3 linked regions of the Homo sapiens genome follow. The protein of the gene in region 1 interacts with the protein of each later gene in a biochemical or structural test. Each region holds a gene or a part of one and is shown on either strand. Other genes may lie near its edges. The genes, in order: STIP1, ACVR1 and CLCN1.

The links.
Region 2: the proteins of STIP1 (region 1) and ACVR1 form a complex in vitro, tested with the Homo sapiens proteins (one study listed by BioGRID).
Region 3: the proteins of STIP1 (region 1) and CLCN1 form a complex in vitro, tested with the Homo sapiens proteins (one study listed by BioGRID).

The regions. Positions count from the first base shown.
Region 1 is NC_000011.10:64,199,652-64,203,302, forward strand, and holds part of STIP1 (stress-induced-phosphoprotein 1), read left to right. Parts: intron 1-288; coding exon 289-385; intron 386-517; coding exon 518-642; intron 643-3,224; coding exon 3,225-3,261; intron 3,262-3,473; coding exon 3,474-3,577; intron 3,578-3,651. UniProt on the Homo sapiens protein: Acts as a co-chaperone for HSP90AA1. Mediates the association of the molecular chaperones HSPA8/HSC70 and HSP90.
Region 2 is NC_000002.12:157,869,705-157,873,355, forward strand, and holds part of ACVR1 (activin receptor type-1 precursor), read right to left. Parts: intron 1-3,651. UniProt on the Homo sapiens protein: Bone morphogenetic protein (BMP) type I receptor that is involved in a wide variety of biological processes, including bone, heart, cartilage, nervous, and reproductive system development and regulation.
Region 3 is NC_000007.14:143,329,574-143,333,224, forward strand, and holds part of CLCN1 (chloride channel protein 1), read left to right. Parts: intron 1-1,198; coding exon 1,199-1,324; intron 1,325-1,658; coding exon 1,659-1,743; intron 1,744-1,977; coding exon 1,978-2,079; intron 2,080-2,845; coding exon 2,846-2,930; intron 2,931-3,150; coding exon 3,151-3,300; intron 3,301-3,651. UniProt on the Homo sapiens protein: Voltage-gated chloride channel involved in skeletal muscle excitability.

The sequences.
Region 1 (3,651 bases):
CTCCCGGGTTCACGCCATTCTCCTGCCTCAGTCTCCCGAGTAGCTGGGACTACAGGCTCCCGCCACCACACCAGGCTAATTTTTTATATTTTTAGTAGAGACAGGGTTTCACCATGTTAGCCAGGATGGTCTCGATCTCCTGACCTCGTGATCCACCCGCCTCGGCCTCCCAAAGTGCTGGGATCACAGGCGTGAGCCACCGCGCCCGGCCCCTAATGTGATTTTTAAGCCCAATATTTAGATGATTATGAGCGTTTAAATTATTATTTCAAGAATTATGTTTTGTAGGCAGAGAAAATCCTGAAGGAGCAAGAGCGGCTGGCCTACATAAACCCCGACCTGGCTTTGGAGGAGAAGAACAAAGGCAACGAGTGTTTTCAGAAAGGTACTGCCTGCAGCTGGGGGATTGGGGGAGCAGTGCTGGGTGTGCCTCCCGTGCCTGGCTGTGGGGTAAATGGCCGGCTACACATGGGGGCTTTTTGCTTTTTAAAAGACAGTCTTTGTTTTTCTTCCCCAGGGGACTATCCCCAGGCCATGAAGCATTATACAGAAGCCATCAAAAGGAACCCGAAAGATGCCAAATTATACAGCAATCGAGCTGCCTGCTACACCAAACTCCTGGAGTTCCAGCTGGCACTCAAGGTGACGAGACCTGTGGGGGCGGCCATTACTGAAAGCCTGCACATGAGGAGTGGGTTTTCTCTCTCTCTCCTCATCAACATTGAGTTGATGATGATCATGATGTTTGAGACAGTGTCTCACTCTGTCCTGCCTCAGCCTCCTGAGGAGCTAGGACCACAGGCTCATGCCTCCACATCCTGCTACATTTTTTATTTTTTTTGTAGAGTTGGGGTCTTGCTGTGTTGCCCAGATTTATAGGGGTGTGTGTGTGTATGTGTGTGTGCGTGTGTAAAATATGGGACCTGTATCTAACTGGTCGTGTGTGTGTGTGTGTGTGTGTGTGTGTGTGTGTGTGTAAAATATGGGACCTGTATCTATCTAACTGGTCCTGGTCCATGGAGTCACTACTGGTTGGCAGTACATTGGAAGGTGGGTCCTTTCACCCCTGTAACCTTCCTCTTTTTTCTTTGTTTTTGCCTTTTTAACCATTTTTAAGAAGTGGAATTGCTGGGTCATGTGGTGTCTGTGTTTACTTTTTTTGTTGGTTTGTTTGAGACAGTCTCACTCAGCTGCCCACACTGGAGTGCCGTGGCACAATCTCGGCTCACTGCAACCACCATCTCCCGGGTATTTTAGTAGAAACGGGGTTTTACCATGTTGGCCAGGCTGGCCTTGAATTCCTGACTTCAGGTGATCCACCCGCCTCAGCCTCCCAAAGTGCTAGGATTACAAGCGTGAACCACCACGCTTGGCCCCCTTTTTTTAAAAAAAAAAAAAAAAAAAGACAAGGTCTGGCTCTATCGCCCAGGCTGGCTGGAGTACAGTGGCACAATCTCAGCTCACTGCAACCTCTACTTCCCTGGCTTAAACCATCCTCCCACCTCAGCCTCCTGAGTAGCTGGGACTACAGGTGTGCACCACTGTACCCAGCTAATTTTTGTATTTTTTATAGAGACAGGGTTTCACCATGTTTTCCCAGGCTGGTCTCAAACTCCTGGGCTCAAGCGAGCCTCCTGCCTTGGACTCCCAAAGTGCTGGGATTACAGGCATGAGCCACTGCGCCCGGCCTATGTTTTATTTTTGAGGAACCACCATATGTTTTTCAGCAGCTGTACCATCCTTGCTTGCTTTTCTGTTTTGCTCAGCTAGGTAGGTCTGCTGTTCTCAGTCATATCAAGTTAGGTCAAATACAATTGTTTGACACTGTGGAGTTCCCATAATCCTCTCGAATCTCAGCCACCCTGCCTCTATCAGCAGTTTTTTTTGACTGTTCTCTAGCTGACAAACCTGGACCGTATTGTGGGAAGGTGACAAAGTGTGACCTGTCTAGAAACAGCCATACCTGGGTTTGTGTTGGTTTTTATATTTTGTGCCACTGTCTTCTGGGTCTGTGTCTTGGCCTAGAGACATCATTTCTACTAGTAGGATTGTGCAAGAGTCATGTCAAAAGCATATTGATTTGTGAGGCAAAGAATAGCAGGTTGTCAATCACCTGGGAGGTGGGCAGTACTTTCCCGATCATGAGAGCGTGGAGAAAGAATGAATGGGATTTCTGCTGCTGTCCCAGCTTCTTGGTGCAAGAGTTGGAATTAATTCCAGGGGAGCTCAGTGTACTGCATAGTGTTCTCTTCCTCATCATTTCTCACTTTGAAGATGTTTCAAAGAGAAGAATACATAGTGAATATCTGGTGTATCTTCCACCTTTATCTGACAAATGTTGACCTGTTTTTGCTGAACTGTTTGCGAAAGGAAATTGTATACATTTGGTACTTAGAATGAGACATCCAAGTCTTGTGCACGCATTGCCTGAAAAGACTCCTGTCCAGTGCAGCACTGTCAGCACACGCGACCTCACCAGACCAAGGCCTGATGCCATCTGCCGTCTGTCCATCCATACTTAGACTTGCCCACTTCTCCAAAAATATGTTTTAAAACTGAGGTTTTTTTATTTTTGTTTGTTTGTTTTTATTTTTTTTTGAGACAGAGTTTCACTCTTGTTGCCCAGGCTGGAGTGCAATGGCGTGATCTTGGCTCACTGCAACCTCTGCCTCCTGGATTCAAGCGATTCTCTTGCCTCAGTCTCTTGAGTAGCTGGGATTATTACAGGTGCAGCCACCAGGCCAGCAAATTTTTTTTTTTTTTTTTTTTTTTTTTTAGTAGAGATGGGGTTTCACCATGTTGGCCAGGCTGGTGTCAAACTCCTGACCTCAGGTGATCCACCCACCTTGGCCTTCCAGAGTGCTGGGATTACAGGCATGAGCCACCGCACCCAGCGTTGTTTTGTTTTTTAGTCAGCAATGGTTTTGGATTCCAAAGCTCTCAGGACCAAGGCCCACGCATTTTGTCTAGTTGTCATGTACTCTTCAGTTTCTCAAACTGGAATTGTCCCCCGCTATGTGTTTTTCATAACATCAGCCTCTTGCAGAGTCCAGGCAGTTTGTCTTGTGTGGGATGATCCATCATCTGGAGTTGTCTTTCCTGATGTTGTCCCCTCTGTTTGGTGCTGGGTGAGGCATTAGAGTTGGAAGTCCACATGCTTGAGTTGCCTGTACTGAGCTTGTCCAAGGGAATGAGCCTAATTTCTTTCTGTTGCTTCATTCTAGGACTGTGAGGAATGTATCCAGCTGGAGCCGACCTTCAGTAAGTGCCTTTCTGCTGCCTGTCCCCTGTCTCTAGCCAAAAGATTAGAGAAGGAAAGGGCAAGCCCTTTGTCTACCTGTGTGTCCTTGGGACCTGTAGGATTTAGGATCCAACATCAGCAGGTGTGAACAGTGTTGGTGTGCAGGTGAAGAGGTGCAAGGAGCAGCCTTGGGCGCTGCGGTTGGATAACGCGCCACCTTTCCTGTTTGTAGTCAAGGGTTATACACGGAAAGCCGCTGCGCTGGAAGCGATGAAGGACTACACCAAAGCCATGGATGTGTACCAGAAGGCGCTAGACCTGGACTCCAGCTGTAAGGTGGGGCTGCTTCTGGCCTCCAGGGGCCCCCCCTGCCTCTTTCTCTGTTGGGGCTTTTCCATGTTCAGTCCCTG
Region 2 (3,651 bases), on another chromosome or scaffold:
TTTTTTACTAGGCCATCCTCATAATATATTTGTTCTTGCCACCTATTGTTCACAACAACTTGGGTTCTTCAAGTTCAAGATAAGCATATGAAAACTGTATGAAAAATAGCACTGGGCACATGTGTCCCTTACTCCTGAAAAGGAAGGTGTCACTCTAGATAACCACCTACACTTTCACTCCTATGCATATTTCTATCTTGTGTAAGTCCCTGACATCAAGACAAGGGATATTCATCCCTAAGCTCCTGCCTTTATGGTCATGTTTGCTTATATGCATTAACTCACTACTTACAGAGAGTAAATCAAGCACATCTTACTTTCACCCCAAGCGTAGCCAACACTCATCAATAGCTGCAATAGTGGAAGTTTCGGAACTTGGTTTAAAACATCACTCAACCCATCCCTTCTATTCCAGAATGCTTTTTCTCAAGTTCTTCTTATTGCACATTTTCCTCAGTACCCACGTTCCAAACTCTCAAGTATCGTCCCATTTCTAATATCCAACTTTGCCCAAGATCACCCCACCTTCGTTCTCCCCTCTGTACATTTCTAAAGTTCAAGGTTATATTTTGGAGGGCCTATCAATATTCTTCCAGAACTGGCTAAAACGGAATCCCCCAAATCAAAGTAATCTTGCTTTTCGATGGCATGGTGATATTAATAGCCAATCTTGGCTTTCATAGATGAGCAAAAGCACACACCCATCAAGTATTCAAGATGAAAAGTTATATGTGGTATGTCCACTGATTTCAGCCCTTAAAAATCTCTCAAAAGAGGAGTTTACTTTGGATTCCACCCATTTTCCAAAGAGGTCACCTACATTTTTCCACCTCTCACATAAGCATGGCCCACCACTACGTTTTCACTGTCAACTGTTTGGAAACATATGCAACAGGAAAAAGTCAAGAGTAAAGTAATTGATTCACTGAGTGTCTGGGTCCTAACTATAAATAATGAAGGATTCCCTGCTCTGTGGGATATAAAAAATTAGTGAGATATTCTTCTCAAAAATGGAAGCATCACTCTTAAATATAAAAAGAAAGAAAGAAACATATGCTGAAAAGAACACAATAAATGTTTGTGGAATTGACTAAGCACAGGTTACAACATTAAGCACTGAGAAGAGGTATCAAAAGCAGTTCCTTCTACATAGAATGTCTTTCGTCCCCACTTTCCAAACTCATCCTTACGGACCACAGTGACTGGTATCATCTTGTCAGCAATCTCCCTGGTTCCCTAGAAGACTAGGTCCCTTTGCTCCCTTAATATGCAATCATCCATTCATTCTCTCGGCAATTCAAAAACAATTTATTGACTGTGTGGTCTAGGCCAGGCATTGTGTTAGGTGCAAAAGTTACACAAAAGATGAATAAGACAGTCCCTTGCCTCAAGGAGCCCAGGGAGAGAATTTGAAAGGTTTTAAGTTGGTGAAGAGCAATGACTTGTGTAGAAAGAATCAATGGAGGAATGAACAACTTGAAGTCCTTGCCCTCAAAGAGATCAATCACATCCCAGAATAAGAAATGGGGATGATAAAACCTAGGAGACTGTCGAAAGGCAAAATGGCAAAATCCAGAAAGCATTCTTGCTTGCAGTAAGATTACTCTGAGCCTTGAAGAATCTGGGTCCCCCAAAAAGGAGGGGAGTGAGGGGCAATGCAGAGACCAGAACAGCCAGGGTTTGGCCTCAAGATGAATGAGAACTGACCTTGGGTGATCCCTCAGGACACTTATGCTAAAAGTGGTCTCACCCCATCCCCCTCTTCAAAACAACTTTCACCTACTGCACAAACCTCCACAAAATTTAGGAAGACTGAAATTTAAAGTTACTTTCCCAGTCACAGAAATAAAGGCCAAATACCCAGAGTCAACAATGAAGTAACTCTAATGGGCAAAGTGGAATGTTGGTCAGAGAGTGAAACCCAAAAATCAAACAACTGAATAGCCGTGGCTCTGGAAAACAAAGCTCTGATGGATCACATAAGAGCCTTTATACATATAAACAATCTCACATTTCCAGAACTGCCTAGAAGCGCACAGGAATAGTATTCGAATGTGTGGTTAGTTTGAATATTAGGGGCAGAGGGTGTATTTGTGTTAACTCAGAAAAGGAAGCTGCCGAATATCTTATTAGTTAATTTTGAGAGTGTGAGTTCAAGCAAAACTACCTCCCATCTGAACCAAAGGCTGTGATGTGCCAACCACACCAAACTGATGAGGCTCTTTCAAAAGGAGTCTTTCATTTGAATGTCCTTCCAACAGACAAACCCTAGTTTAGAACTTCTGATTCTTAAACTTAACATGGCAAGCAAGAGCATTCTATGGCCAACTGCTAAAAATGAGGAGGTAAATCTTCCATTTGGTTCTTCTGAGAGCTGGAATTGGCCACAGAAAGAAACACAAAGTTTTCACTCCAAAAGATCAAAGAAGGTATTTTGTACCAGGAAACCCAATTCCAAATCCTCATTTCCAGGAATAAAGCCACAGTGCCCGGTGCTTGCTTGGGAAAATAAAACAGGAGATTCTGCGGATTCCAATTAAAATTTCTGATGGCTTTATTTCCCAGCCTCACCAGTTTAATGTTGTTAACATTTCATCCAGGCCCTGCTTTAACTTAAATACTGCTTCCAGCTCTGAATGGTCACACCTTACTACTGGGTAAAAAGGAAGGTGTCTTAACACTTCATGACAGTATTCTTTGCCCCATCCCAAGTGCTAGATATATAAGACAAGGTGATGCTGAAAAGTGCTAGCTTCAGCCCAGCCTGTGTCTCCCATAACTACAGCCAGGTGAAACCTCACTGCAGCCCACACTATTTAGTTGCAATATTGGAAAGGAGAGTAGAAGCAGGAGAAAATAGGGGAGGAGGGGGACATACCTCAACCTTATTCAAATATAACAAACAATGAGCTTGCTTTACAATTATTTCCTGGGGTCTTATCGATCAGCCAGTAGTTACTGTGTGCCCACTGCAAACAAGGCACCAAGCTAAATCTATAGTCAGCATAGTGCAGTAAAATATTCCCTAAGTAATCATTATGTTAATGGTTATGTGTTTAATTTTCTTTATCATTTTAGAAAAAATGTATTGTGTATGTAGGTTATAAAGTCTAAAAATAAAATCAGCACCTATGAACCCATCACCCAATCCAAAAACCAGAACATCACCAACACTGTATCATCTACCTACTTCCTCCATTTTTATTCCAGGTCCCTGCAACATACACACACTCCACATAATCATTATTCTGAAGTTGGGGTTTCGGTGCAAGTACAAACGCATATTTATGACTACCTCCTATTCCTAACAAGTGAGTTGGCTTTCCAAATATGGTAGTAATACATAATTTCCTCTCAAAAAAATGATGTCTTTAGGTTCTTTTCTTTAAGTGAATCATTGCTTTAAAGAAAAATATTAATAGAGTAAGTGGGACTCAGCCATGGTAAACTCAGGAAGACAGTATGTGAGTGAATGAACTTTGACAATCACTGGCAAAAGTGGCCAAGAACATGAGTTCTGAAGTCCTGCAGACCTCTGGTTCAAATCCCCATTCTACCACTGAAATTTGCCAAGCCTCAATTTCTTATTGTAGGACGGTAAAATAATAATAAGACATATGGTGTTTGTGGAAATGTCATGAAAAAGTACCT
Region 3 (3,651 bases), on another chromosome or scaffold:
GGATTCAAGAGATGTGGCCTTTGAATATAGCACAGGGAGAAGAAAATTACTAGGATGCGAGGTGCTGCCTGAAGAGGGCGTTCACCCTGTTCACATGGAGAGAAAGGGGACAAACCTGCCTAGTTCAAGGTTTCCTGAGGCCAGGCCTCATCTCCATTCATCCAATTATGTGCGTGGTTGCATTTCCCTGGTTCCTTTTCCTCGTTTTTGATAAAGATGAGGCTTAGCCAGGTTTTAGGTAATTTTGTCATCAATTTTTACTTTGCATCAGATTAAAGTCCACCCCCCCTTATTCTTAATATGTTGAAATATTTTTTTCTTTGCCTCTCTTGAGTGTTGCTTTTTACGCCCTCACTCGCATTCCTTACTTTGTCCCTACCAACCCTTGCTCTTTTTCTGTAGATCTACCCCCTCAATTTCTGCTCCAGCACCTACGCTCAGAAACAGTACTACTTAGAACTACTACTTAGCTTTCCTTTTGCCTCACCCACCTTTCTTAAGCATGATTGTTTTTCTCTTCTTCTAGCCTCTTGGTTTTTCCCCTTGCGTTGGTCCTTTTAAGTCGGGTTTTTAGTATTAGTTTATTATTATTATTATTTGTATGACTCCTCTACCTTCTTTTCTTGAACTATCGAGGATGGTCAGCTCCTGCAAAGCCCCCTCCTATTTTTGTTCTGTCTTCCTTATAAGGTTGCCCCAGGGTACATGGTATATGTAGAACGGTAGGAAAGTCCAGAGGAGGGTGTTAAGGAGAGTCCCTGTAAATCCTGAGCTCTGCTTGGCAACTCTACTGAGGAACTGCTCTGGAACTTTCTCTCTCTTAACTTCTCTGCAGATTTTTTTCAACTACCTTTTAGTCCCTGTGGGTATCTGACAGTTGTGAACCCCATTCAACCCTACATTCTAAGGGATGCAGAGGGCACGGACACTTGGTCCTCATGTTTTGGAGGTTGAAGGCCCATTCGTTTTCAATCTTCTCTGTGTTGGACCCATCCCTTGTCTGAAATAAAAATAAAAAACTCCTAGCCTGAGCAGTTGTGTGGTTTTGAGCATGGGAATCCAAGAGATCATTACTTTCCACTACTGCTTCCACCCAGATTCATGTTTCAGCAAAAGCTCCTTAGGTCCAAGCAGTGGGGAGTGTGGGGGAGCACTTTCACTGCTGGCTGCCCCCAACCACACTTCTGTGCCCCTGCAGGAGTGCTATTTAGCATCGAGGTCACCTCCACCTACTTTGCTGTTCGGAACTACTGGAGAGGATTCTTTGCAGCCACGTTCAGCGCCTTTGTGTTTCGAGTGCTGGCAGTGTGGAACAAGGATGCTGGTAACCAAGGAGGCCTTGGGTGGAGGCCATGTGAAATAGAAAAGCTGGGAATGGGGTGCAGAGGAAAACTCTGTGGGGCAGTTCAGAAAAGGAATAATGGGCGGCATCATTTGTGGGGTGGGACCAAGGCCCAAGGGTGTATGACAAAGATATAGGTCATGGAGTGGGAGAGTATATCCATGGAGGAGTGTGCGTAGAAAAAAGGAAAATACATTCAAGAGGAGAAACTGGGATTGGAGGAAGGAAGGAATTAATCCTGAAAACTGCCCACCTCTGTTTCCCTGTTGGGTTTCTACGAAGCTCCCATCGTAATACTGGCCTTTCCATCCTACAGTCACCATCACTGCTCTGTTCAGAACCAATTTCCGAATGGATTTCCCCTTTGACCTGAAGGAACTACCAGCTTTTGCTGCCATCGGGTCAGTGGGGTTACCTGCTCTGTGTGTGGTGAGCAGGGTGTGGAGTGAGGCTGTAGATTGGAAGGGACCCAAGCTAGAAAGAAGGTGCGGTTGGCACAGATAGAGTACATTGCTGGGGGGATGTGGGCAGATAGGAAAGGCAGAAGCCTGGTATTTGTTTCCCTGCAGTAGTTATGTCCAAGAGATGAGGATTTCATGTCTGTAAGATTCCAACTCTATAAATTACACCCTCAGGATTTGCTGTGGGCTCCTGGGAGCTGTATTTGTGTATCTGCATCGCCAAGTCATGCTCGGTGTCCGAAAGCACAAGGCCCTCAGCCAGTTTCTTGCTAAGCAGTGAGTCACTGCCCTTCTTTTGCCCTACCCATTTACTTTCTGGTTTCTCCAAGAGTTCCTCCCTTTTTGTCTTTGGGGAAGGCATTAAATGCCTCTGGGTGGCTTGCATTAAAATATAAGGAAGCTCTGATATTGTGGTTAGGGGGTGAATTGTGTGGTCTCCCATTTAAAGATTATTTTTGTTTTTGTTTTTTGAGACAGAGTCTCACTCCATCACCCAGGCTGGAGTGCAGTGGTGCGATCTCAGCTCACTGTAACCTCTGCCTCCTGGGTTCAAGCGATTCTCATGCCTCAGCCTCCTGAGTAGTTGGGATTACAGACATGCACCAACACGACCAGCTAATTTTTGTATTTTTAGTAGAGATGGAGTTTCACCATGTTGCCCAGGCTGGTCTCGAACTTGTGACCTCAGGGGATCTACCCTCCTTGGCCTCCCAAAGTGCTGGGATTACAGGCATGCACCACCGTGCCTGGCTAATTTTTGTATTTTTAGTAGAGATGGGGTTTCACCATGTTGGCCAGGCTGGTCTTGAACTTGTGACCTAAGGTGATCTGCCCACCTTGGCCTCCCAAAGTGCCCCATGGGATTAGAGGCATGAGCCACCGCACTCGGCCTCAAATATTGGTTTTTTGTGTGAAGAGAATCTTTTTCATTTAAAGAAATGAGACTACGGTGGACTAAAGGAAACTTCAGCTTGCCATCGTTCAGTATGGTATTTACTGTGAGTTGGCTGAATTGTGGCGGTTAACTCTGTTTCTTTTTCAGCCGCCTGCTGTATCCTGGAATTGTTACCTTTGTCATTGCCTCATTCACCTTCCCACCAGGAATGGGTCAATTCATGGCTGGAGAGGTCAGCTGTTGGTGGGGCCACATGGTAAAGAGGAAACAGCACAGATATACCTCAGGCTTCAGAGCATAAGTAGTTTTGTCCAAGGATAGACTTTCTAGATTCTCCCTGAGAAAAGGGCAAAAGAGACCCTTGAATAATGAGGCTGGGGAATAAGTTCTCTAAAAAAGGAAGCACAGGAGTTCCCTGGAGAACCCACCCTTTCTGCTTCTTCCTCTCCCAGTTGATGCCCCGCGAAGCCATCAGTACTTTGTTTGACAACAATACATGGGTGAAACACGCGGGTGATCCTGAGAGCCTGGGCCAGTCAGCTGTGTGGATTCACCCCCGGGTCAACGTTGTCATCATCATCTTTCTCTTCTTCGTCATGAAGGTACTGCTCCTGACACTAGCAACACCCTAAACCTCCATCTGTTTTCAATCTATGAACCCAGGGTTTGCATAGGGTAGGAAGGGGTAGAACTTCATTTGGTCTTCATCCAACCTAAAAATAAGTCATTTGAAAACCATAGAGTTGGCCAGGCATGGTGGCTCACACCTGTAATCCCACCACTTTGGCAGGCTGAGGCAGGTGGATCACTTGATGCCAGGAGTTGGAGACCAACATAGCCAACATAGCGAAACCCCATCTCTACCAAAAATTCAAAAAACTTAGCCAGGCATGGTGGCGCATGCCTGTAATCCCAGCTACTGGGGAGGCTGACGCAGGAGAATCACTTGAACC